4 separate regions of the Homo sapiens genome follow, and regions 1, 2 and 3 are each linked to region 4. Evidence: fine-mapped expression QTL. A gene starts in region 4. Each other region holds a variant in brackets. All regions are shown on one strand. Distances are between the middles of the regions.

The links. PIP is the estimated chance that this variant, and not a neighbour inherited with it, causes the effect. A credible set is the group of variants that fine-mapping cannot tell apart.
Region 1: its variant is the best candidate, but not a certain one, in a credible set for the expression of SHISA4 in putamen (GTEx, PIP 0.52).
Region 2: its variant is the best candidate, but not a certain one, in a credible set for the expression of SHISA4 in prefrontal cortex (BrainSeq, PIP 0.67).
Region 3: its variant is the best candidate, but not a certain one, in a credible set for the expression of SHISA4 in whole blood (TOPMed, PIP 0.71).

Annotation. Positions count from the first base shown.
Region 1 is chr1:201,850,910-201,857,090 of GRCh38, forward strand. IPO9 (importin 9) reads left to right here. Exons shown (of 24, transcript NM_018085.5): 5 at 1,195-1,283; 6 at 2,102-2,188; 7 at 3,686-3,805; 8 at 3,914-4,014; 9 at 4,215-4,273; 10 at 4,874-5,025. Among named protein-coding and RNA genes, the nearest start is that of MIR6739, 9.4 kb to the right of the region's middle. RefSeq lists an enhancer at 3,572-3,866. The variant C/T (reference allele first, on the strand shown) is at 2,918.
Region 2 is chr1:201,842,845-201,849,025 of GRCh38, forward strand. IPO9 (importin 9) reads left to right here. Exons shown (of 24, transcript NM_018085.5): 2 at 4,435-4,496; 3 at 4,708-4,794; 4 at 5,549-5,750. Among named protein-coding and RNA genes, the nearest start is that of IPO9-AS1, 16 kb to the left of the region's middle. The variant C/G (reference allele first, on the strand shown) is at 3,042.
Region 3 is chr1:201,817,462-201,822,137 of GRCh38, forward strand. It overlaps NAV1 (neuron navigator 1), which reads left to right. Exons shown (of 34, transcript NM_001389617.1): 34 at 2,376-4,676. The coding sequence ends at 2,471. All of the region lies in intron 1 of IPO9-AS1 (IPO9 antisense RNA 1), which reads right to left. Among named protein-coding and RNA genes, the nearest start is that of IPO9, 9.4 kb to the right of the region's middle. The variant A/G (reference allele first, on the strand shown) is at 1,887.
Region 4 is chr1:201,885,880-201,892,060 of GRCh38, forward strand. SHISA4 (shisa family member 4) reads left to right here and starts at 3,019. Exons shown (of 5, transcript NM_198149.3): 1 at 3,019-3,188; 2 at 3,566-3,737; 3 at 4,575-4,708; 4 at 5,522-5,689; 5 at 5,921-6,181. The coding sequence starts at 3,116. The coding sequence ends at 5,967. RefSeq lists enhancers at 2,512-3,021, 2,862-3,156.

The DNA.
Region 1 (6,181 bases), 35 kb before region 4:
GTTCAAAATTGTGGAGTACCTTAATCTTGAAAATGCCAGCTTGCGTTTGTAGCTGTGTATCTTCCCCCAAAATGTCCCAAGTGGTTAGCTTTATTTTTAGTTTTATTTATTTATTTATTTATTTGAGACATGGTCTCACTCTGTCACCCAGGCTCAGGTACAGTGGCACTGTTGTAGCTCACTGTAACCTTGACCTCCTGGGCTCAAGCGAGCCTCCTGCCTCAGCATCCTAAGTAGCTGGGACTGCAGACACATGCCACCACATGCAGCTTTTTTTTTTTTTTTTTTAAATGTACTGGCAGATCTTGCTATGTTCAAGCTGGTCTTGAACTCCTGGCCTCAAGTGATCCTCCTGCCTCAACCTCCCAAAGCTCTGGGATTACAGGTATAAGCCACTGTTCCCGGCCCATATGTCCATTTCTATAGTGATAACGTGGAAAAGCATCAGGTAAAGTGGATAGTTACTGGAACTCAAGAGCTTTATTCTGCTGCTTTGTAACATGAATCCAGGGTCCTTTGTGCTGTCTCAGTGCCTTGTGTGTGGTGTATTTGGTTTTTTTTTTTTTGAGACGTGAAGGGAAAGATACGACCCATATTTCCGTCACCTTCGAGTCTCATTCTGTGTATAGGTTGCTTTTTGTCACATTTATATAGAAAATTCCCATTTGTTCCAGTTAGCAGCAGCCTCTGACTTTTAGGTCAATAAAATCTGAGAAGAGTAACATATACAAAGAGGAGTTGAGGCCTAGTAAGTCTGTACATATTTTATTACATGCATCAAACCAGCTTGCCAAGCGAAAGTACTGAAAACAGAAGCAAAGGTAAGAAACCTCGAAGTGTAACTGAATGTTGACAGATGGGCACAAGATAAATTAATACAGAATTTTCCCAAGTTGACCTCACAAGGACTTTTATGCAGTTCTATTACAGATTTTCTTTCAGTATTTATATTAAAGTTTTCTTTTTTAATCTCTTGTATTTTTCTTTATTTCCATATTATTCTTTCTCCTTCTAACAAATAATCAGTAACTCTTGCTACTTTTGCTTTCACAGAATGAGACCACCAGGCCAGTGTCTTTACCTGTGTGCTGTCTGTTTGGGAACTGCCACCTAGAAGCAGTTCAGAAAATATCACACTTAATATCTTTATGAAGCAGTATTTTTTTTTTAACAGTACTACTTTTTTCTTTGTAGAATTCACTCGTGAAGTAACAGACACACAGATGCCACTTGTTGCTCCTGTCATTCTCCCAGAGATGTATAAGATCTTCACCATGGCTGAGGTATGAAATCTCAGCTCCAAGATTATAGTGAGTTCAGGCTCTCTTCAGCCCCCAGCCTTTCAGGTGGGAGATTATGGTGTTTGCAACTGATCTCAATACCTAAAAACTAGAACTGACAAAGATCTGGATCTGAATCTGCATTAACCTTAGACCTTTCACTCAACTACAAGGGCAAGCCTTTGATAAAAGTGTGAAATAGCTGAAATATTTCTTCACATATCGTACTTCCTGGCATCCAGTAGCCCCTAAGTAGATAAATAGTGCCTTCCTTCATGCTACTTCCAGCCTCTTACTGAGTTATCCCACCTACGCTTGCCTACCTCAGCTAAGTAATGGGAAGCAATCTATCACTGCATTGCACATAATAGACCCTTAATATATTGCATATATATTTGATTAGTGTGTATATGAATGATAACTCATTTATAGTAAGGTATAAATACCTGATGGATAATGTTTTAACTTCCCTATTCCCCTCTGCCCCCAACCAATGGTCTGCATTTTAAAGGAAATATATTGGCTGTGTTGGGATTTTAAGCACTACCTAGTCTGGTATTTTTTAATCAAATGAACCCACAGAGGCCCTTATATAAGGTTCATTCCAGTAAGTTCCAACATTATGATTCTGCTACCTTTCATTCTCTGAATTACAGAAGTCTGCCTCCTGGACATAAATGAATTACATTTCCCATTTCTCGAGGGCATCCAATCTCATGTGAGGATTCATTAGTCATAGTTTTACTTCTAGTCTGAGATACACACATACCTACACACTCCAGTCTCGTGGCTATGCTGTTATGCTGTAACCTTTCTTCCAGGTGTATGGTATTCGAACCCGTTCCCGAGCCGTGGAGATTTTTACCACTTGTGCCCATATGATCTGTAACATGGAGGAGCTGGAAAAGGTAAGCAGGTCTTTGGATCAATAACAGACTTCATGCTTAAAAGTTTTATTCATGCAGAGCAGTGAGTCATTTCATGATAGCAGCACGAAAAAGCACACTAACCAGTATTAGAGATAGATTTAACATTTTTATTAAATTATTGTTGTTATTTTTCCAGACAGGGTCTTGCTCTGTCACCCAGGCTGGACTACAGTGGTGCAATCATGGCTCACTACAGCCTTGAACTCCTGGGCTTAAGTGATCCCCTGACCCCCAGTAGGAACTACAGGTGTGGTGTGCACCACCACACTTGGCTGATTTTCTTTTTTAAATGTTTGTAGAGATAGGGTCTCACTGTATTGCCCAGGCTGGTCTTGAACTTCTGGGCTCAAGCAGTCTTCCCCCCTCAGCCTCCCAAAGTGCTGGGGTTATAAGCATGAACCACAACACTCAGCTATATTTGTATTTTTTTTATTTATTTGGGTTTTTTTTGAGACAAGATCTTGCTCTGTCACCCAGGCTGGAATGCAGTGGCATGATCATAGCTCACTGCAGCCTCAACCTCCCAGGTTCAAGCAATCCTCTCACCTCAGCCTCCCGAGTAGGTGAGATCACCAGCATGTGCTACCACTCCTGGCTAATGAATGAATGAGTGAACGAATGAATTTATTTATTTATTTAGAGATGGAGTCTCGCTCTGTCACCAGGCTAGAGTGCAGTGGTGCAATCTCAGCTCACTGCAACGTCCGC[C/T]TCCCAGGTTCAAGTGATTCTTCTGCCTCAGCCTCCCGAGTAGCTGGGACTACAGGCACGCGCCATCATGCCCAGCTAATTTTTGTTTTGCAGTAGAGACAGGGTTTCACCATGTTGGCCAGGATGGTCTCAATATCTTGACCTCGTGATCCACCCACCTCGGCCTCCCAAAGTGCTGGGATTACAGGCATGAGCCACCATGCCCAGCCTAATGAATTTATATTTGTAGAGACGGGGTCTCTCCCTATGTTGCCCAGGCTCATCTTGAACTCCTTGGCTCAAGTGATCCTCCCACCTTGGCCTCCCAAAGTGCTAGGATTATAGGTGTGAGCCACCACACCTGGCCTGATTGAATTTTCAACTTGTAAAAAGCTTAGTCTTCTTTTGAGTCTTACTTCTTCAAACACCTTATCCTATATCCTTTTCATAGTAGTCATCCCTTAGAACTTTCCTACTCTTTTATGGCCCTCTTGTGTGAAGCAAAGCTAGCTGAAAAATACCAATCCCTGTGATTCAGAAGCAGTTAGGAGGAAAGTTGGTCTTACATAATAGTTTTTAAGAGGGCTTTGATGAAGAACTGCAAGTGCTGGTTAAGGAAAAATGAAATCTTAGGTAACACCTTCATTGACTTTATAGCTATTCTCTTCTGATCAGGCTTGGAGCCTGAAGAGAGCTTTAGGTGCCTTTCAAATATCAGTGTTTGATATATATGTGTTGAAGCCATGGATTAGGGGTTTGTCCAGTATTGACTTTGGTTTCTGTTATCAGGGTGCAGCCAAAGTCCTGATCTTTCCCGTGGTACAGCAGTTCACAGAGGCCTTTGTTCAGGCCCTCCAGATACCAGATGGCCCCACATCTGACAGTGGGTTTAAGATGGAGGTCCTAAAGGTAAACACTTACTACCAATGAAATATTTGGAGTTTGAGGGGCTGGTCTGAAATCATTTATTTCTTATATATCACTCATAACTTGGGTCCTTTTCTCTTAACTTCTTAGGCAGTGACAGCCCTAGTGAAAAACTTCCCAAAGCACATGGTGTCCTCCATGCAGCAGATTCTGCCTATTGTTTGGAACACCCTAACCGAGAGTGCAGCTTTATATCCTTTCTTGAAAGTTTAAGGGAGCTACTACCACCTATAGTTAGGAATCTCGCACTGGGTTTCACATTCATATGGTTCCACTCTTCTTACACAGGCTTTTTTAAGGTGTCTACTTTTAGTGTTGGAATATGTAACATTTCCATGTAGATTATATGTAAAGCAGACTCCAAATTCTATTTCTTTACTCTTCATCATACTTATGTGAGGACAGAAGTAAATTACACAGAAGAAGTAGAAGATCCTGTGGATTCTGATGGTATGTAGTTTATTTGATCTTTATAGAAATACCAGTTAGTGGGAAAAGAAAAAGAAGCCAGAGATGGGGGCGGGAAACAGTAACTTGAGAGGCTTCACTCTATTAAGTGTTTTCTAATTCAGTTTATTTTCGATGTATTCGATGTGGGGAAATGAGAATTGACAATCTTTAATCTGTTCCACATAGGTAGTTGCATAAATCTCATAAAATCATAGAATTTCTGCATTGGAAGAGATACTTTTAAGGCCATTTAATCTAGCCTACTTCTGGCATTTTGTTGTGTTTCATTTGGGGGTCCCAGATCATGAATCTTTCGTTTCTGTTTTAACATTTCTCATTATTTCAGATTAGAACAATAGACATACTGGAAAATATATCCAGTGTTTCTGATTCTTTTACTTGAAAAACCAAAGAATATTTAATATCCTCAAAATTACGTTTTGTGACCTCTGAGCCCTCTCTCCCAATTCCTCAGGAATGATCATTAGCAAGTACTTTAAATATTCAGTAATTTACAAAGGTTATGTAGTTCATTTTCTGCATATATGCTTTCCTTTTGCTTTCTTGTCATTAATTTCTTCTCTTCTGTATTTCCTGCAGGTGAAGTCCTGGGCTTTGAAAATCTCGTCTTTAGCATTTTTGAATTTGTCCATGCTCTACTAGAAAATAGCAAATTCAAAAGCACTGTTAAGAAAGCCTTGCCTGAATTGATTTATTATATTATCCTGTACATGCAAATCACTGAGGAGCAGGTAAATAATATTTGAGAGACAGTTACCATCTTGTATTTGGAAAGTGCAACTTGAAGAATATGAGGTCTTGGTCAGGTGAACACTTTATTTCTAAAAATAGACACAAAAAGAATAATTTCATGTGAAGTTCTGGGAAAGGTTTGACATCATTTTATTGCCAAATCCAAGGTTTTGGAGTTCACCACCATACCTGGCTTTTTTTTTTTTTTTTTTTCCCAGCAAAGTACTATACTATGTTGCCCAGGCTAGTAGTCTCTAACTCCTGGGCTCAAGCAATCCACCCACCTTGGCCTCTCAAAGTGCTGGGATTACAGGCATGAGTGACTGTGCCTGGCCCACTTTTGCCATTAGAAAATCTCACAGGACCACTAACCTAAGACACTGATTTTTAGGAGAATCTGTTCCTTCCCTAAAGTAAAATGTAATAATCAGACCATTAGCCTGATGGTGGGTCATCAAAAGCAGCAAAGAACGTTCAAAAATTAGATAACGCCTCGTTTAAAACAGCACAAGAATTGACATAATTTTCACAATAAATAGTCTATCAGACTTAATCTATTCAGAAAATCGATCTATCAAAGGGTAACAGCAGGTTGACATTGGCAGAGAGCTAGTAATCAGCCAGATTCTAAAAGAGAGCAATAGCCATTGCTACCTACCTTGCTACTTAATAGTATTTATTTCTCTACATCAAAAAGAAAAGATTTTTTTAAGCTAGAGTTTTTGTTTCAGTTTTTGTTGTTGTTGTTGTTTTGTTTTGTTTGCTTTTTGGGACAGGGTCTTGCTGTTTTGCTCAGGCTGGAGTGCAGTGGTGTAGACAAAGCTCACGGCAGCCTTGACCTCCCAGGCTCAAGCCATCCTCCTGCCTCAGCCTCCCGAGTAGCTGAGACCACAGGCATATGCCACCATGCCCAGTTGACTTTTTTATTTTTTGTAGAGGTGGGGTCTCACTATGTTGCCCAGGCTGGTCTCAAACTCCTGGGCTCAAGCAGTCCTCCCACCTTGGCCTCCCAAAGTGTCAGGATTACAGTTGTGAGCCATTGCATCCAGCAAAAGGCTAGAGTTTTTTCAGGATAATAGGTTGAAATCTTCCTGTATCTGTTGATGAAAAGCTATGAATCAGATTGGCAGCATCACAAAGACATAACTTGATCTT
Region 2 (6,181 bases), 43 kb before region 4:
TAGTCTTAGCAAACACAGAACTTTACCATTTCATGAGTTTGATATAATTGAGCTAAGAAGCAATGTCATCTCTTGCTCTGAGCCTCTTTTGAGGTGTTAATGTGATATTGGAATCCTCTCAGTTCATAATCCACTTATTCATTTCTTTCCTCTGAGCTACTGTTTCTTCTCTCTTAATAAGTACCCAAACTTTTCCACCTTTGGAAGGAGCATTACAATCAGCCACTGTGATGGTCTAGATTGCAGGCAACAATACTAGTCTAGCAAGTACCTCTTCCTCAGTGCACCCCCTTCAGATAGGGTTAGGTTACAGAGGTGCAGAACTAGTGGGCTATTTTTACTGTCAGGCAATATAGCTGTATTAACTGTTAGCCCCAATTTTGCTGGATGGGGTGAAGGCACAACCCATTCCCATCAGTCCATTAGGAATTCTGACCTAAGTTACAATACGTAGTTAGAATTTCTTGCCTAGGAATCATTCCTGCTTCCAGCACATGTAGTTGCAGCCCTGGTCCTAAGACCATTGCATCAGGTAGGGGAATGGGGGAAAAAAAAAGAAAAGGAAAGTTGAGGTGATGTGCGGGAAAAAAGACAGAAAGAAGTATCTTGTAAGTAAGAAGAGACTGTCTTTCACCTTTATCCTTCAGGAGCTACTTCAGGAACCAAGGACAAAAGCCAAATACTTTTTAAGAAAATATATTCTTGGTCGGGTGTGGTGGCCCACACCTGTAATCCCAGCACTTTGGGAGGCTGAGGCAGGCAGACTTGAGGTCAAGAGTTCAAGACCAGCCTGGCCAACATGGCAAAACCCAGTCTCTACGAAAAATACAAAAATTAGCTGGGCGTGGTGGTACACTCCTGCAATTCCAGCTATTCCAGAGGCTGAGGCACAAGAATCGCTTGAACCCAGGAGACAGAGGTTGCAGTGAACTGAGATAGCGCCACTGCACTCTAGTCTGGGTGACAGAGTGCGATTCTGTCTCAAAAAAAAAAAAAAAAAAGATATTCTTATTACTGTAGTCAGTTAGGAAAGAATAAGGCTTACAGGAGCTGAGAACCAGGAATCATGGATGAAAACCAAAATATATATTTTATAATATTGTAATAAATAAAGGAGAAGGGACAGTACTTCCTTATAAAAGAATTCCAATTAATAAAGTGAAGAGAATAAAAGAAATGCAAAATCACCATTAGGCAGGTAACACCCACAGATGGATGCTAAAATCAGTGGGTGAGACTTTGAAAAGAAACAGGATAATAGCAAAATGTCAAAATATTTCTCCCTAGATTTGGATCAGTTACAAAGGGAAAAACAGTACCTATAAGTAGAGAAACCCAGCAGACCTTGCCATGTGATCAAGGTTACCATAACCAGTAATAAAATTTTTATCAACATTATGTACTCCCTAATATGATATACTGAGAAGGACACAGCATCACTTTCTGGTATTCTTGCCAAAAATGTATAACCTCAATCTAAAACATGAGGAAACTTTAGTCAAACCCAAATTGAGACACGTTCTACAAAATAACTGATCGATATTCACCAGAAGTGTTCTGGTCACAAAAGACAAAAATGAAGACCTGTCACACTTTAGAAGAAACTAAGGAGACATGGCAACCAGATACAATGTGGGATCCTGAAGGAAAAAGGACAATAAGGAAAAAAACTGGTGAAGTTCTTATCAAGTCTAGTTTAGTTAATAGTATTATACCCATGTTAATTTCCTGATTTTTGATCACTGAACCGTGGTTATGTAAGAGGAAAATGGATGAATGATATCCATGAACTCTGTACTGTTCAGCTTTTCTGTAAGTCTTTAAAAATTATTTTGTAAAATATGGACATAGATCATTTTTAGCAGTTATTAACCTGGTTACTTGGATAAGCCCTGAACCTGAAACATTGCATGTAACAACTCTTTCTTGGTATTAAGCTTTTCTATTGTATAAATGCCCTTTGGATGGCTATTTCAGTAGAATCCAATTAAGGTGGAACATAGATGGGAAAGCCAAACAGTGTATTCATGATAGACAATAAAAAATAATAGCAAAATAACTTATTTTTGTTTTCAAGTTTTTACCAGTATGGCAGATATTGTACAAAGCATTTTACATATATTATATTATTCAGTCTTAAAAGGATTGCTTGATATATTGATACCAGTATTTTTTTTGGGAGGGGGGGGCGTACAGAGTTTCCCTCTTGTTGCCCAGGCTGGAGTGCAATGGCGCAATCTCGGCTCATCGCAACCTCTGCCTCCTGGGTTCAATTAATTCTCCTGCCTCAGCCTCTCGAGTAGCTGGGATTACAGGCATGTGCCACCATATCCGGCTAATTTTGTATTTTTAGTAGAGACGGGATTTCTCCATGTTGGTCAGGCTGGACTCGAACTCCAGACCTCAGGTGATCCGCCCACTCCCACCTCTCAAAGTTCTGGGATTACAGGCGTGAGCCACCTTTCCCGGCCCTGATACCAATATTCTTATTTTGTGGGTGAGGAAGCTGAGGTTTAGAAAGGAAACTTACCTAATGACAGGCATGGTGGCTTCAGGATTTGAACCTAAACAGCCTGTTCTCTTAATCACACCAATCCATAGCTCCCTCCAAAGGGAAGTGATGAGCCTATTGTGACCTATGTATCTACCAGTAGTAAGCAAGTCTAGAAAACTGCTGTTCATTCTTTAGCATAGTGCTGTACAACAGAAATATAGTATGAGTCATGTGTGAAATTTTAAATTTTCTAGTGGCTACATTAAAAAGGCAAAAAGAAACATAAAATTAAATTTTAACTCTATATTCATTTAACCTGATATAGACAAAGTATTATTGCAACATTTGATCAATATAAAAAGATATTTTCCTCTTTTTTTCACACTGTTTGAAATCTAGTGAGTATTACATTTATAGGCATCTCAAGTCTCACCAGCCACATTACAGGTACTTAGTAGCCATTGTGACTAATAGCTACTGCATTGGATAGCACAGCCCTACAATGTGAGATGTAAAAATTATGATGCACTGTTGGTTTTACATTCTT[C/G]CTCCTCTTTTCACAAAGAAATATTTGACAGTTGACTCCTTTGCAAGTATATATTAGATCTAAGTTCTAATTTGGAGCCAGGCACAGTGGCGTGCATCTGTAGTCTCAGCTACTCGGGAGACTGAAGCAGGAAGTACATTTGAGCCTAGGAGTTTGACACTGCAGTGAGCTATTACTATGCCACTGCACTCCAGCCTGGATGACAGAGTGAGACCCTGTCTCTAAAACAAAATTTATTTTAGTAATCATTTTTTAAAAATAAATTTTAATTTGGAAGTAAGAGTTACTTACAGCCTCCCAATGTGCAGTTCAAGTTCCATTGCTTATTGGAAACTACTCATTTGTAGGACTAAGTTTGTTGAAGCCAGGTTTTCTTGGACTTAATCAGCTCATAACTGGTGGCATATATCTGGACAACTCGTGAAATCTCACCTTTTAAGTTGTCCTCAGGAATAGATGGTCCCATGATATTTTGTTTTTGTTTTGTTTTGTTTGTTTGTTTTTTGAGACGGAGTCTCGCTCTGTAGCCCAGGCTGAAATGCAGTGGCACGATCTCAGCTCACTGCAACCTCTGCCTCCCAGGTTCAAACAATTCTCTGCTTCAGCCTCCCAAGTAGCTGGGATTACAGGTGCCCGCTACCATGCCTGACTAATTTTTTTGTGTTTTTAGTAGAGACGGGGTTTTCACCATCTTGGCCAGGCTGGTCTTAAACTCCTGACCTTGTGATCCACCTGCCTTGGCCTCCCAAAGTGCTAGGATTATAGGCATGAGCCACTGCGCCCAGCCTGTTTTGCTTTTTTGAGATAGAGTTTTGCTCTTGTCTCCCAGGCTGGAGTACAATGGTGCGATCTCAGCTCACTGCAACCTCGTCCTCCTGGGTTCAAGCGATTCTCCTGCCTCTGCCTCCCGAGTAGCTGGGATTACAGCCATGCATCACCAAGCCTGGCTAATTTTGTATTTTTAGTAGAGATGGGGTTTCACCATGTTGGCCAAGGTGATCTCAAACTCCTGACCTCAAGTGATCCACCCACCTCGACCTCCCAAAGTGCTGGGATTACAGGCGTGAGCCACCACGCCAGGCTCCATGTTTCAATTACCACATTAATTGGTCTAAGAGGAAGGTGTTGTCATCTTGGAAGAGAAGATGGCTGGAAGGTGCTATGCAGTGACTGGAAAAAGTGTAAGGGTGTTGAAACTTCATTGTAACAAGGCATGTCCTGCAAGCCAACTTGTTTCTTTTACTTGGAGGAATCAGTCTTAGCAGTTATCAGCTCTTTTTGAAACAACAGATTAAGTTTCTTTCTGGAATCTTGTTGGCATCAGGGTTAGAGCTTAGTAAATTTCTATGGCTTTCCTAGGTACTCTTAGACTCAATAAAATTTTCTCTTTCAGAATTTGGTGTTCACTTGGCAGAACTGACTGTAGATCCCCAGGGGGCACTGGCAATCCGTCAGGTAAGTCCAGACTGGCCCAATTTATAAATAGTTTCCCTTTCCTTGGTAATGAAACTTTCTTATAGGAAAGAAAAATAAGGCCAGTGTATAAATAACCTAGGATGTTGTGCCAGATTTAGATATACTTCAGATGTATCAGGCTATGTATATAGTTTTTATGTGTGAAAAAAATCTTTTTCTTGCTGTACTACTTGGCTTATTCTCTTCACAGCTGGCATCAGTCATCTTGAAACAATATGTGGAGACTCACTGGTGTGCCCAATCAGAGAAATTTAGGCCTCCTGAAACTACAGAAAGGGTAAGTCAGTTACTTGATTAGTCTACCTGAGGAGATTTGAGGGTCCATTTTAAGAGATTAGACTATAACATTCTTTGACAGCATGGAGCAATCAAAAGACTAGGCAGAAAAGGAGATTGGTGGCTGGCATTGCGGGCATAGGGCTATACATTAAAGAGCTCAAGTATCAGGCTGGTCTGTGTTCAAATTCCAGTTTTGCTTTTTACAAGCTATGAGATCATTGGAAATGTAGTTAACACCTAAGCCTCAATTTCCTAAATCTCCAAAGTGAGAATAAAAATACCAACTAAGGGTTTAAGAATTAAATGAAATAACATTTGTACTTAGTGCAGTACTGTGCAGTCATCCTGAGTCCCCAAGAAATTTTGAGGTATAAGGTCTGGAGGAATGTTTTCCACTGGAGCTTTATGCAATTATGGAAATATTCTGTGTCTGTGCTGCCTAAAACAATAGCTACTAGCTGCATATGGCTGTTGAGCACTTAAAATGGGGCTAGTGCAACTGAGGAACTGAATTTTAAATTTTTTAAAATGTTAATAGCTATGTATAGCTAGTGGCTACTGTAATGGACTGCATAAGTTTAGAGATCACAGATGAACCCTCCAAATGAATTGTCAAGTTTGTGTATAGGAGTTTTCTGTAGACATGCAGTACCTTGTACTCATTGTTTTTCCAACACAGTTCCCAATTGAACTGGGCTCTGCCAGTCACTTTTAACCTGATCTAATAGCAGGTGGACTTTTATCCCTTACAGGCAAAAATTGTTATCCGGGAGCTATTGCCTAATGGGTTGAGAGAATCGATAAGCAAAGTGCGCTCCAGTGTGGCCTATGCAGTGTCAGCCATTGCCCACTGGGACTGGCCTGAAGCTTGGCCCCAACTCTTCAACCTGCTCATGGAGATGTTGGTGAGCGGAGACTTAAATGCCGTCCATGGAGCCATGCGTGTGCTGACAGGTACCAGAAGCCCTTTTCCCTGGTATTGGTACTTGGATCTCAAGCGACAGGAGTATTACCAGAAGCTATGTGATATAATGGCCTGGACCAGTAGGAATTGCTGCTGATGTTATTCCTCCCTCCTAGTTTTTATCTCTCCATCTACCCTCCAGCTCTATTGTTTTTTTCTAGGGAATTAAGTTTGTATAGTATTACTTCTACTCCCAAACCTACCACTTACAGATACAGTATTAGCATAGTGATGGAGTATTCAGATTTTGGATTTTTGTAGTGGCTTCACCTTGATCCTTCACTTACCTTCTTTGAGCCTGAGTTTCCTTTTATATAAAATTAAGATGATAGTAGTGTCTGCATCAAAGGAGCTTTTGGTATAGTTTAAATGTTAGCTAATCTATCTTTATTGACTTGTTCAGTAAAGTTTAGTTACTATG
Region 3 (4,676 bases), 69 kb before region 4:
AAAAATAAGTTAAAAAAAAACCCTGAATTCTTCACACTTTTCATACATACACTGATGGGGGCCTGGAGAGTAAAGAGTGAGCACTAGCAAAGCCAGGACCAGGCTAAGGCCAGTGAGGAGCTCTAAATATCAGAATCTGGGGTTATAAAGATCATATGCCTGAGACCTGGCTTAAGCTAAATAATAGTGCATCCCAGCAAGATGTATTCTAGCAAAGACCCAAGTCTCAGGTAGATCTCATGATGTAGGAATATCAACCAAAGAAGTAGAGCAGTAGGGCACACTAGCACTCTCTCTACTTCTGCTTCTCCTCTGACGCTATCCTGAAGACTACTTCAGCTAAATGAGTTCATGGAACTCCTGTAGAAAGCAGGCTAAGCCAAGTACAAACTGGGGGAATATCTGCAATGCCTGTAGCCAGAAAAAGACTGGTATCTAAAATATCTAAAATTTCCAAACAGAAGAATGGATAAAAGATATAAACAGCTGGGCACAGTGGCTCACACCTGTAATTCCAGCAGTTTGGGAGGCTGAGACAGGAGGAGGATGGCTTGAGGCCAGGAGTGCAAGACCAACCTGGGCAACATACTGAGACCCCATCTCTAGAAAAACAAAAAAATTAGCTGGGTGTGATGGCACATGCCTACAGTCACAACTACTCAGGAGGCTGAGGTGGGAGATTGCTTGAGCCTGGGAAGTTGAGGCTACAGTGAGCCGTGATTACACCACTGCACTCCAGCCCAGGTGACAAAGCAAGACCCCATCTCTTAGGAGAAAGATATGAAGGCCAGGCGTGGTGGCTCACACCTGTAATCCAAGCACTTTGAGAGGCCAAGGCGGGCGGATCATGAGGTCAAGAGATTGAGACCATCCTGGCCAACATGGTGAAACCCCGTCTCTACTAAAAATACAAAAAATTAGCCAGGCGTGGTGGCAGGCACCTGTAGTCCCAGCTACTTGGGAGGCTGAGGAAGGAGAATCACTTGGACCCGGGAGGTGGAGCTTGCAGTGAGCCGAGATCACGCCACTGCACACTCCAGCCTGGCGACAGAGCGAGACTCCCTCTCAAAAAAAAAAAAAAAAGATATGAGTAGACATTTGGCTAGAGCAAATGCAAATGGCCAATAAAAACATAAAAGGATCCTCTGCCTCTCCAATAATTGAGGAAATGCAAATTAAAACAAGAGATACCACTTCACATTGGCAAAAGTAGTATGTATGGAAGCATAGACTTTTATACTCCGCTGGTGGGAGTGGTTGTTGATAAAACCATTTTGGAAGATAATTTGGCAGATTATATTAAAACTTAACATGCGCAAATCCTGTGACCTTACAATTCTATCTTTCCCATAGGAAATTCTTCCAATAATCATAATACATTTTTATTAAAATTTTGACTTTGTTAAAAACAGATGCTATCTGTATAAAAATGCTTTTAAATTGGAAGCTTATTAATAATCACGTAGACAGAAGAGAATTGTGGAGAGCAGATTCAACAGAAAATGCACCAGGCTTACTTAGCTGAAATGGAAGTACCAATCTTGACGTGTCCAGAGAAAAAAGTAAGTAAAGAGAAGGAAGTGAGTACATAGAGGTATTTAGACTTGACATGAAGCAACACGGTTGGTAAGCTGGAGAGAAATAGGTTCATAATAATACAGTGTCTAGCTGCTGGTTTATACTCTATTGGAAGGGGAAATTGTTATTTTATAGCATTTCTCACATTCCTCCCAGTATTCGTTGGTATGTTCAGGCCTTCCCTCCTCTCCTGGAGTGCAAGCACCCTGCAGGCAGAAGTGGTCTCATTCTTTTTTGGTATTCCTCCATAAATGGTACCTTGTCCCTTGTATAGCAGGCATACTCCCAAGTAATTGTTGTACATACAC[A/G]TGTGTCACAGTTATCATTGAAGAAATCCTCATTGCCTTTTCACAAACCACTCTAAACTCTGAGCTCTTCATCACTGAGAAACCAAGGATCAGACCCATGATCTAGATTTTTTTTTTTTTTTTTTTGGAGACAGAGTCTTGCTCTTTCATCCAGGCTGGAATGCAGTGATGATATCAAAGCTCACTGCTGCCTCAAACTCCTAGGCTCATAGGCTCGAGTCATCCTCCCACTTGGGCTTTGGCATCCTGAGTAGCTGGGACTGTAGTTGTGTGCCACCACGCCTGGCCAGTTTTTTATTGTTTTATTTTTATTTTTTGGTAGAGTCAGGGTCTCTCTTTGTTTTCAAAGCTGATTGCAAACTCCTGGCTTCAAGCTATCCTTCCACCTTGGCCTCCCAAAGTGTTGGGATTTTGTTGTTGTTGTTTCCCTTCTGTGGGCAGGACCCAGAGTCCCAACTCTCATAAATCCATCTTTTTGCCCCCCTTTAGATGGCCATGCTGCTGAAACTTCAAGAAGCTGCCAACTACATTGAGTCTCCAGATCGAGAAACCATCCTGGACCCCAACCTTCAGGCAACACTTTAAGGGTTCGGCAATCACTGTCACCCCCGGACAGCAGAACGCTGGCATCAGCTATCTTAGCTCCTCCTCTCCCCTCTCCTCTTTCAGAGCACTGGCTCTCCAGCCCCAGGAGGAGAACAGGAGGGAGGAGGAGATGAAAGAGGAGGGACAGGTTCTTGGTGCTGTACCTTTGAGAACTTCCTAGGAAGGAATGGTGGGGTGGCGTTTGGGAACTTGTGCCCCCTAAACACATTTACTGGCCTCCTCTAATGACTTTGGGGAAAAGATGATTCTGGGTCTTTCCCTTGACTTCTTGTTTCAATTACAAACTCCTGGGCTTTCTGGGGAGGGGTTCAGAAAACATCAAAACACTGCAGCAGTTCCTAAATGATTCTCACAAGCAACCCTGAGAGAGACAGTCTTGTGAGGGAGATCTGGGGGAGGCAGGAAGCTCCTCAGATTTTCTCACAGACCCTTCCCAATTCCATCACCACTGCCAACAACTCCTCCCCCAGAGATCTGGCTGGAGCCCAGAAAAAGAAGCATGTGGTTTAAAAAATGTTTAAATCAATCTGTAAAAGGTAAAAATGAAAAACAAAAACAAGCAAACAAACAAAAAACAATGGAAAAGATGAAGCTGGAGAGAGAGGAACCAGTTGCCAAGGTAGAGAGCTGCCCGCTCCTGCCCTCTGGATGACATAGGGGACATCAACAAGACGGCTGCCAACCTGAGAAGTCACCAAACCACAAAAATAACCTTACAGCCTTCAGGGAAAGACTACCAGCTCTGTCTTTCTACCCTCTAATTTAACAATGCATAAGAGTCAATAAACCCTACTTTTTTATTTTTGGTTTTTATTTTGTTTTCATTTTTTTCTCCCATTTGCCTATTTATTTTTTTGTTTCCCTTTTTTTTTTCTTTTTCCGTTTTTCCATTTCCTCACATGTCCACGAGATGCTTGGGTTGCTTTTCCAGGGGCTAGTTTGGCTTTTCCAAGTGGGTTTTCTTTGGAGAATCTGATGCCATGCAATTGGCATGACACCTGCCATGCCACTATCTTTGGCATCCATGGGGCTTATATGAGACATGAAGCATTGGCTCAGAAGTAGAGGGAGAAGAGGAACCCAGTTCCCTTGACTTCCCTTTTGAGAGCACACGTTCTGCTGGGTAGCTCAATTGCCAGCCTCTGTCATGAGAAGGTATAGCCCCATCTTGATAGAAGAGTTACTCCGAGCTTTATCATGGACCAGAGGAAAACCAGAAAACTGAAAACATTCCTCTGTCTTGTGGCCAGTTTGGCCTTTCACTGCACTATTCTGATGGTGCCTGACTGAATCCAAATATCCTAGCTGGCTCTTACTATTTTTCACAAATGAGTATTCACATATAAGAGATGAACATCCATGTGAGATCATCCCAATCAGAATATAAGACTCAAGGAGTTTGACTTGGTGGCCAATACCTGCCTTCCAAAGAGATCCTACCTTTGCAGATTTGCTCCTTTCCCATTGCCTTGAAGGTCTGGCAATCCCTGTTCTTTCATTTGACAAGTACTTACTGAGTACTCACTATATACAAATCATTAGGTTAAAACAGACACACACACACACACACACACACACACACACACACACACACACACAAGACCTGGGCCCTTAAGTTTACAGTCCAGCAGGAAATGTTAACCTCCATTCAGCTACGCCCCCTTGTTATCTAGACCTTCGGGATCATCTAAGAAATGTAGCTGAAACCCAAGGAGCCAGCTAGAAAGAAGCTTTTGATTAGATGTACAATACATTGGGGGCAGAAGATCTGGGATCAATTAAGATGGAGCCTGAAGGACTATGGAATCTTGCTTGTCAGGAATGGGCAAGTCTACTTCCTGCCATTTCTGAAAGCCCCGCGGGACCAGCTTCTAGGCTGAGCTGCCTAGTAGGCTGAAGCTTCAGGACTCTGCAGGTCAAGGATATGTGATGAGCACCGGCCTAAGTGTTTGCTCTTCAGATTCCTAAGTAGCACAAGACTTTATCAGAATCTATAGGCATACCAACCTGGATCACTCTTCCACCCAACCGAGGAGTAGATGCATCTGAATCTTCATATCGGTATATTAAGTCCAAAAGATGGTCCGGGCTGCCCCTCACAAAAGCTTCTGCATCCACGTGGTAAGCTCCCATGGATGACAGGGTTCTGTATGATGGAGACTATTATTGCTATTGCTGCTAATT
Region 4 (6,181 bases):
GCAGAGGCCTGCTAGAGATAAGGGCTGGGCATCAAAGTTTCCCTGAATACATGCTTTTTATGCCAGGCATAGCACTGAACATTTTAGACTTGTTTTTTTGTTTGTTTGAGACGGAGTTTCGCTCTTGTTGCCCAGGCTGGAATGCAATGGCGATTCCCGGGTTCAAGCCTCCCGGGTTCAAGTGATTCTCCTGCCTCAGCCTCCCGAGCAGCTAGGATTACAGTCATGTGCCACCACACCCAGCTAATTTTGTATTTTTAGTAGAGACGGGGTTTCTACATGTTGATCAGGCTGGTCTCCAACTCCCGACCTCAGGTGATCTGCCTGCCTTGGCCTCCCAAAGTGTTGGGATTACAAGCGTGAGCCACCGTGCCTGGCCCTTTAGACTTGTTTAAAGAGAAGCAGGTGGTGAAGCTGAAGGGCCTGGGCTTTGAAGCCACAAAAGTCCAACTGCAAATCCCAGCAGTGTGAGCTGGGGGAATTGAAGTTCTTCCAACTTCAGTTTCCTCATCTGTACAATGGGATGAGCTCATCAGCAATGTTCGCTGCTGGTGGTATCATTACCATCATATTCCAGACACCCTGAGGAGAACCTCCTACTGGCAAAGCCTATGTTTTGTCTCATCTGATCACAAATTACTCTGCCTCCTCTTTTCCAGGAAAGCGTTTCTTTCCCTTGCTGGGGATTAAGAGACCAGCTTGGTGAGCGGGGGGTATTCCTGCCTGCCCTTACCTAGAGAAGGTGTAGTGAAGCCCTTCCAGGCCTGAAGATTTAGACAACTTCTTCCAGGGCCCCCAGTCCTCCCACCCAAGCCCCTCCTCACTCCTGGCCAATCTACAGACTCTTTCAAGACCCAGGTTCATTATGGCGACATAAGCTAGCCCCAGCTCTCCATCTCCGAGCTCCAGCATCCCTTGTCAAGGTAAGAAGTGCCAGTTCTCCCAGTGCAGCCAGTTCTCCCCTCTGGTTGGCCCACAGCCCCCTCTCTTCACTCTCTGTCCTAGTCTAGTCACCTCCCATCCCATGAACTGAAACACATTCTTAGAATTTTGCAATTAGAAAATCACTGATGATGTTGGTGCGTGCTAGGTGTCATTGCAAGCTGGAAGTGTCAACTAGGGGTATACACTTTGAGGAGGGCGTGTCAACTAGGGGTATACACTTTGAGGAAGGCTAGTTGGAGAAAAAAGCAGGAAAGTAGCTAGAGAGGGATGAGTTTTAGGAAGGATGTGGTTTGGTTTGGTTTGCTTTGCTTTGCTTTGCTTTAAATAGGAGAGACTTGAGATTTCCTAGGGAAAAGAAGCTGGTAAGGTGTGAGAAGCTAAAGACACTAAAGAGATGGGATAATGAAGAGACAAATCAGCAGGGGTCAAGGGTACACATGGGAGATTCAGCTCTGGGCAGGAAAGACAGTCCCTTATCTGAAGATGATTCAACCAACAATGACAACACTGATGGCTAGGGCTGGATGGCCACATTGAACACAGCCACGTGGTCCCTGCAGTCATGGAGCTTTTAGTGTAGGAAAGAGGAGATGGATGGCAATGGGCACACTGAGTAGGTGGTGCTGGATTCAGAGGCGTTTCTCTTTGTCCCTGCTGCTGCATTTATGACTGTGTCCTGCGTGAGGACATACTCTTGCCCATCAGGCTACCAGCAACTTTCTGGGGCAGGAGCCTATCCTCTCCTATTCCAGCTCTCTTGGGTAGGTGTGCCAGCACCCACAGGGGCCCAGGATGGGGTAGCTCCTCTTTCGGCTGTCCTTCCCTAACCTACTAAGATTCTACTGGGCCTTCCATGGACCTGTCCTGATTCTCTCACCCCAGAACACAAGAAATACTCACTGTCTACACTGTCTGCTGTTGCGGCTGGGGATCAACCCTGATTTAGATTTGGGTCTTCCTGATGCCTCTACCATTTACTGGCTGTATTACCTTGAACAAGTTCTTTAACCTCCATGAGTCCTAGTTTCTCAGTCTGTGAAATGCGATTGATAACACTGATGAACCTTGCTTAGTTCATGGAGTTGTGGAAAGATTCCAGTGAGGTAGATGTGGAAGCCCAGAAGTGTGTGAAAGGGTGTACATGGCAGGGGATTAAGGTAGGCTTTTGATGATCTCCCTGGCTTAATTTGCAGTTCCTCGGAGGGTACCTCATGTAGCATGGGGCATAGTCACTGGCACTCAGTATAAACCTGTGAAGACTGACCTCTCCCATCCTAAAACACTGTCTCCACCTGGAATTAACTGTTGCCCACCTGAAATTAACTGTTGCCCTCCCTATGCTCCGGTGGCTATTGCAGTACAGGCTTGCTCTGTGAAGGGCTTTCACTGTGAAGAGTGTTTAACTGGATGGGCCCCAGGTGGCCCCAGCAGCCTGCCTTCCCTGCTAGTGAGGCCATGGGCTGGTGCATGCCAGCTCTGTCCACTTGAAGGGGGAAGGGTCCATCGTAGGGAGCCAGTGCAGCTGGCAGGGTTCAGGCCTGTGGGCACCGCTGGGGACAAAGCCACTCTGAATGCCTCTCAATGAGTGCTTGTGTTCTGGGAATGGGGGCGGGGTGACATCCAGCCTCTTTCCCTCTCCGCCCCCGACAGGATGTCCCAGGCTGGACGCGGCAGAGGAGGTCCCCCACAAGTGAAGGTCCAGCCCTGCTCCTCCAGGGTTGGCCCATGTGTCTGGGCATTCGGAGGTGGCACCAGGATCAGGGCTTCTGGAGTCCAGCATAGTGATTGGGCCCAGGCCGGGGGCGGGTCCAGGACACAGCCAGGCTTCCCTGGCCGCAGTGCCCAACTGCCCGCAGTGCCCATGGTGGCTCGGATGGGAGGAACCACCGCGGAGCCGGGGACAGGGGGAGCAGGGCAGTGCTCTGCTGGGTGAGGGGCACCCAGCTCCAGAGGCTAGGTGGGCGTCGCTGGTGGGTGGACTCCTGGGCGCTGCGCGGAGCCGCGCCGGCTGGGTTAGCGCGGGCGGGGCGCTTAGTCCCACCCCCAGAGGAGGCGGAAGAGGAGCCCGAGCCTGGCCGCGGGCTGGGCCCCGCCGCAGCTCCAGCTGGCCGGCTTGGTCCTGCGGTCCCTTCTCTGGGAGGCCCGACCCCGGCCGCGCCCAGCCCCCACCATGCCACCCGCGGGGCTCCGCCGGGCCGCGCCGCTCACCGCAATCGCTCTGTTGGTGCTGGGGGCTCCCCTGGGTAAGGGGATGGGGAGAGATGCGGCAGGAGTGGGATGGGGGCGGAGGAAGGGGAGGGACCGATCCGAGGGGCTTGGGCTCGGGGCTTCTCCGAGACCCTCCGGCTGCCACGGGAGCCTTGGGTGTTGCTGGGTCCTCAAGAAGCGGGAAGAGGGAGCTCCAGGATGCTGGGCCATGGGAGGCTGATCCCGGGGTGCAGGGTCAGCTTCAGGCAGAGGCCTCGGGGGCTCTGGGGCTGAGACCCTCAGGGTGGAGACAAGGGGCAACCCTCAGTGTTCGGGAGCCGTCAGGCTGGGGACCGCCGGGGGAGTGGGGCCGAGCGCGGCTGGGGATGAACTGGCCTGGTGGCCACTGGGCACCCCCAATCCCTGCCCGCAGTGCTGGCCGGCGAGGACTGCCTGTGGTACCTGGACCGGAATGGCTCCTGGCATCCGGGGTTTAACTGCGAGTTCTTCACCTTCTGCTGCGGGACCTGCTACCATCGGTACTGCTGCAGGGACCTGACCTTGCTTATCACCGAGAGGCAGCAGAAGCACTGCCTGGCCTTCAGGTGGGTTCCTGCCTCCTCACCCTCACCACCTCCTCTATCCTTTTCTCCAGAGGCCTCCTCTTCCTCCCTCCCGGACTCCTGCCTCCTCCGTTGTCGACCTCCACATTCTTAGCTGAATAGAGTCACCAGGACTCAAGCCTGGCGGCAGAGCTAGGTGCTTAGGTGCTGGTGCCTGGGAGTTCCAGAAAAGGCATGTTAGTTACCTTCATAGGCTTTGACTGGGCCCGGGGTTTCCAGGTTCTTTCTGGAGCCCTCCCTTTGGTCCTGCCAGGTCATGGGGAGGGAGGGTTCAAGGTTAACACCCGGACGACAGTGTAGCTTTGTGGAAGAAGCTCTGGCACAAAGGCAGGAGACTTGGGTTTGATTCCCAGGTCCACTTCTTACTAGCTGTGTGATCTTGGAGAAGACACTTGCCTTCTATGGGTCATTGCTTGCCAAATTAGTGGTTGTCAAACTTTTTTTTAATATATCATATATAAAATAGATATAGAGACTTCTGATTGAAGCGGGGTTTGGAAAAAATGGCTCTAGATTATTTCTAAGGCTCCTTTCAGTGTTATGCTGTATGTCTAATCATTTAAGTTGTAGATATAAAAGCAATGGTTGGGGGCGCACTGCAAATCCCCGTATGCTTCACACTAGCCAGCCAGGCAGCATAGCCTTCTGGGAAGTGGAGGTCCTCTAAGATCTCCTTCACAGGGACTGGGCAGAGCCCCACAAGGAACCCCAAATCTCAGCATGCCATGGCCCCCCTGCTGGCCAGGAGTTGGAGCCAGCATAATGAGGACTCCGTCCTATGAGTGTTGGAAGGTGAGAGGACCTGTTCTTTGTCTAAAGCCCCAAGACCATAGCAGGCATCGCCTCAGCTGTGATCCTCTTTGTTGCTGTGGTTGCCACCACCATCTGCTGCTTCCTCTGTTCCTGTTGCTACCTGTACCGCCGGCGCCAGCAGCTCCAGAGCCCATTTGAAGGTACACCCAGTACTGGGCAAGAAGGGCCTCAGATGGGCTGGGCTAAGTCCAATAATGGGCAGCAGAGAGTTCATGGATTGGGTAAATTCTGTAGTAGTATGTGCTTCTGTATACACACACCTGCCAGCATGAAAACCCAGAAAAATGCTTGTAAACCCGTGAATATTAGAATGTGCCTGGGATATATGGAACATCAGACTTTGTGTGCATTTCTGTGCATACACATGAAGATTCAAATGTGTACAGGAGTGCAGTCTGTCAACAATAGTGGGTGCAGTGGGTGTATGCATACATATGACTCTTAGTAAGTACACGGGGTCAGGTCTGTAGTGATGAACATTAATTGAGTGTGCTCCAGTGGATGGCAAAATATGTGCCTGAGTGTTGGCATGTGATGCACATATGCCACAACCTGATGGACATGGGGACAGTGATGCCATACGGGAGATCAGTGTGGGAGGGAAGGGCTAGGAGAAGACCCTCTTAGTGGCAGCTCTGCTGGATTACAGGATACCAGCCCTGAGCTGTCCCCTTCTTGCCCAAGTGAGATATTCCCTGGGCTGTGCTCCCTGGTTCATGAGGTCTCTGAAACCTGCTGAGGGGAGCAAACTTGCTCAACACAGATTGACCAGCTGGGGCCACGTGCACAGCTCCCTGCTTAACTCTGCCAAGCAGGGTGTGGGAGGCAAAGATGGCCAGCCTGGAGCTTGCCAGAGGCCAGCACCAGGGTGCTTACCTTGGTTTCCTGGGCAGGAGGAGGAGGCTTCCCATAGGAGATGGGTCTCTGAATGCTGATCCTTCTCCCCCATCTAGGCCAGGAGATTCCAATGACAGGCATCCCAGTGCAGCCAGTATACCCATACCCCCAGGACCCCAAAGCTGGCCCTGCACCCCCACAGCCTGGCTTCATATACCCACCTAGTGGTCCTGCTCCCCAATATCCACTCTACCCAGCTGGGCCCCCAGTCTACAACCCTGCAGGTAAGTAAGCAATCTGGAGCCCCTTGCTGCTGCCTTCCCCCACCCCTTGCCCTGCGACCTCCCCTGTGCCTCTCTCATTCTCAGATTCCCTCTCCCAGACTTCCTCCACCTCTAGCCCGAAACCTCCAGGCCCACTCTTCCCTATGGGTCCTGTCTGCCCCGGGGGCAGGGGTGTTACTTTTCGTCCACCTATGCCACCACTCACCCTCATCCTGTCTCTTTGGCTTTCAGCTCCTCCTCCCTATATGCCACCACAGCCCTCTTACCCGGGAGCCTGAGGAACCAGCCATGTCTCTGCTGCCCCTTCAGTGATGCCAACCTTGGGAGATGCCCTCATCCTGTACCTGCATCTGGTCCTGGGGGTGGCAGGAGTCCTCCAGCCACCAGGCCCCAGACCAAGCCAAGCCCTGGGCCCTACTGGGGACAGAGCCCCAGGGAAGTGGAACAGGAGCTGAACTAGAACTATGAGGGGTTGGGGGGAGGGCTTGGAAT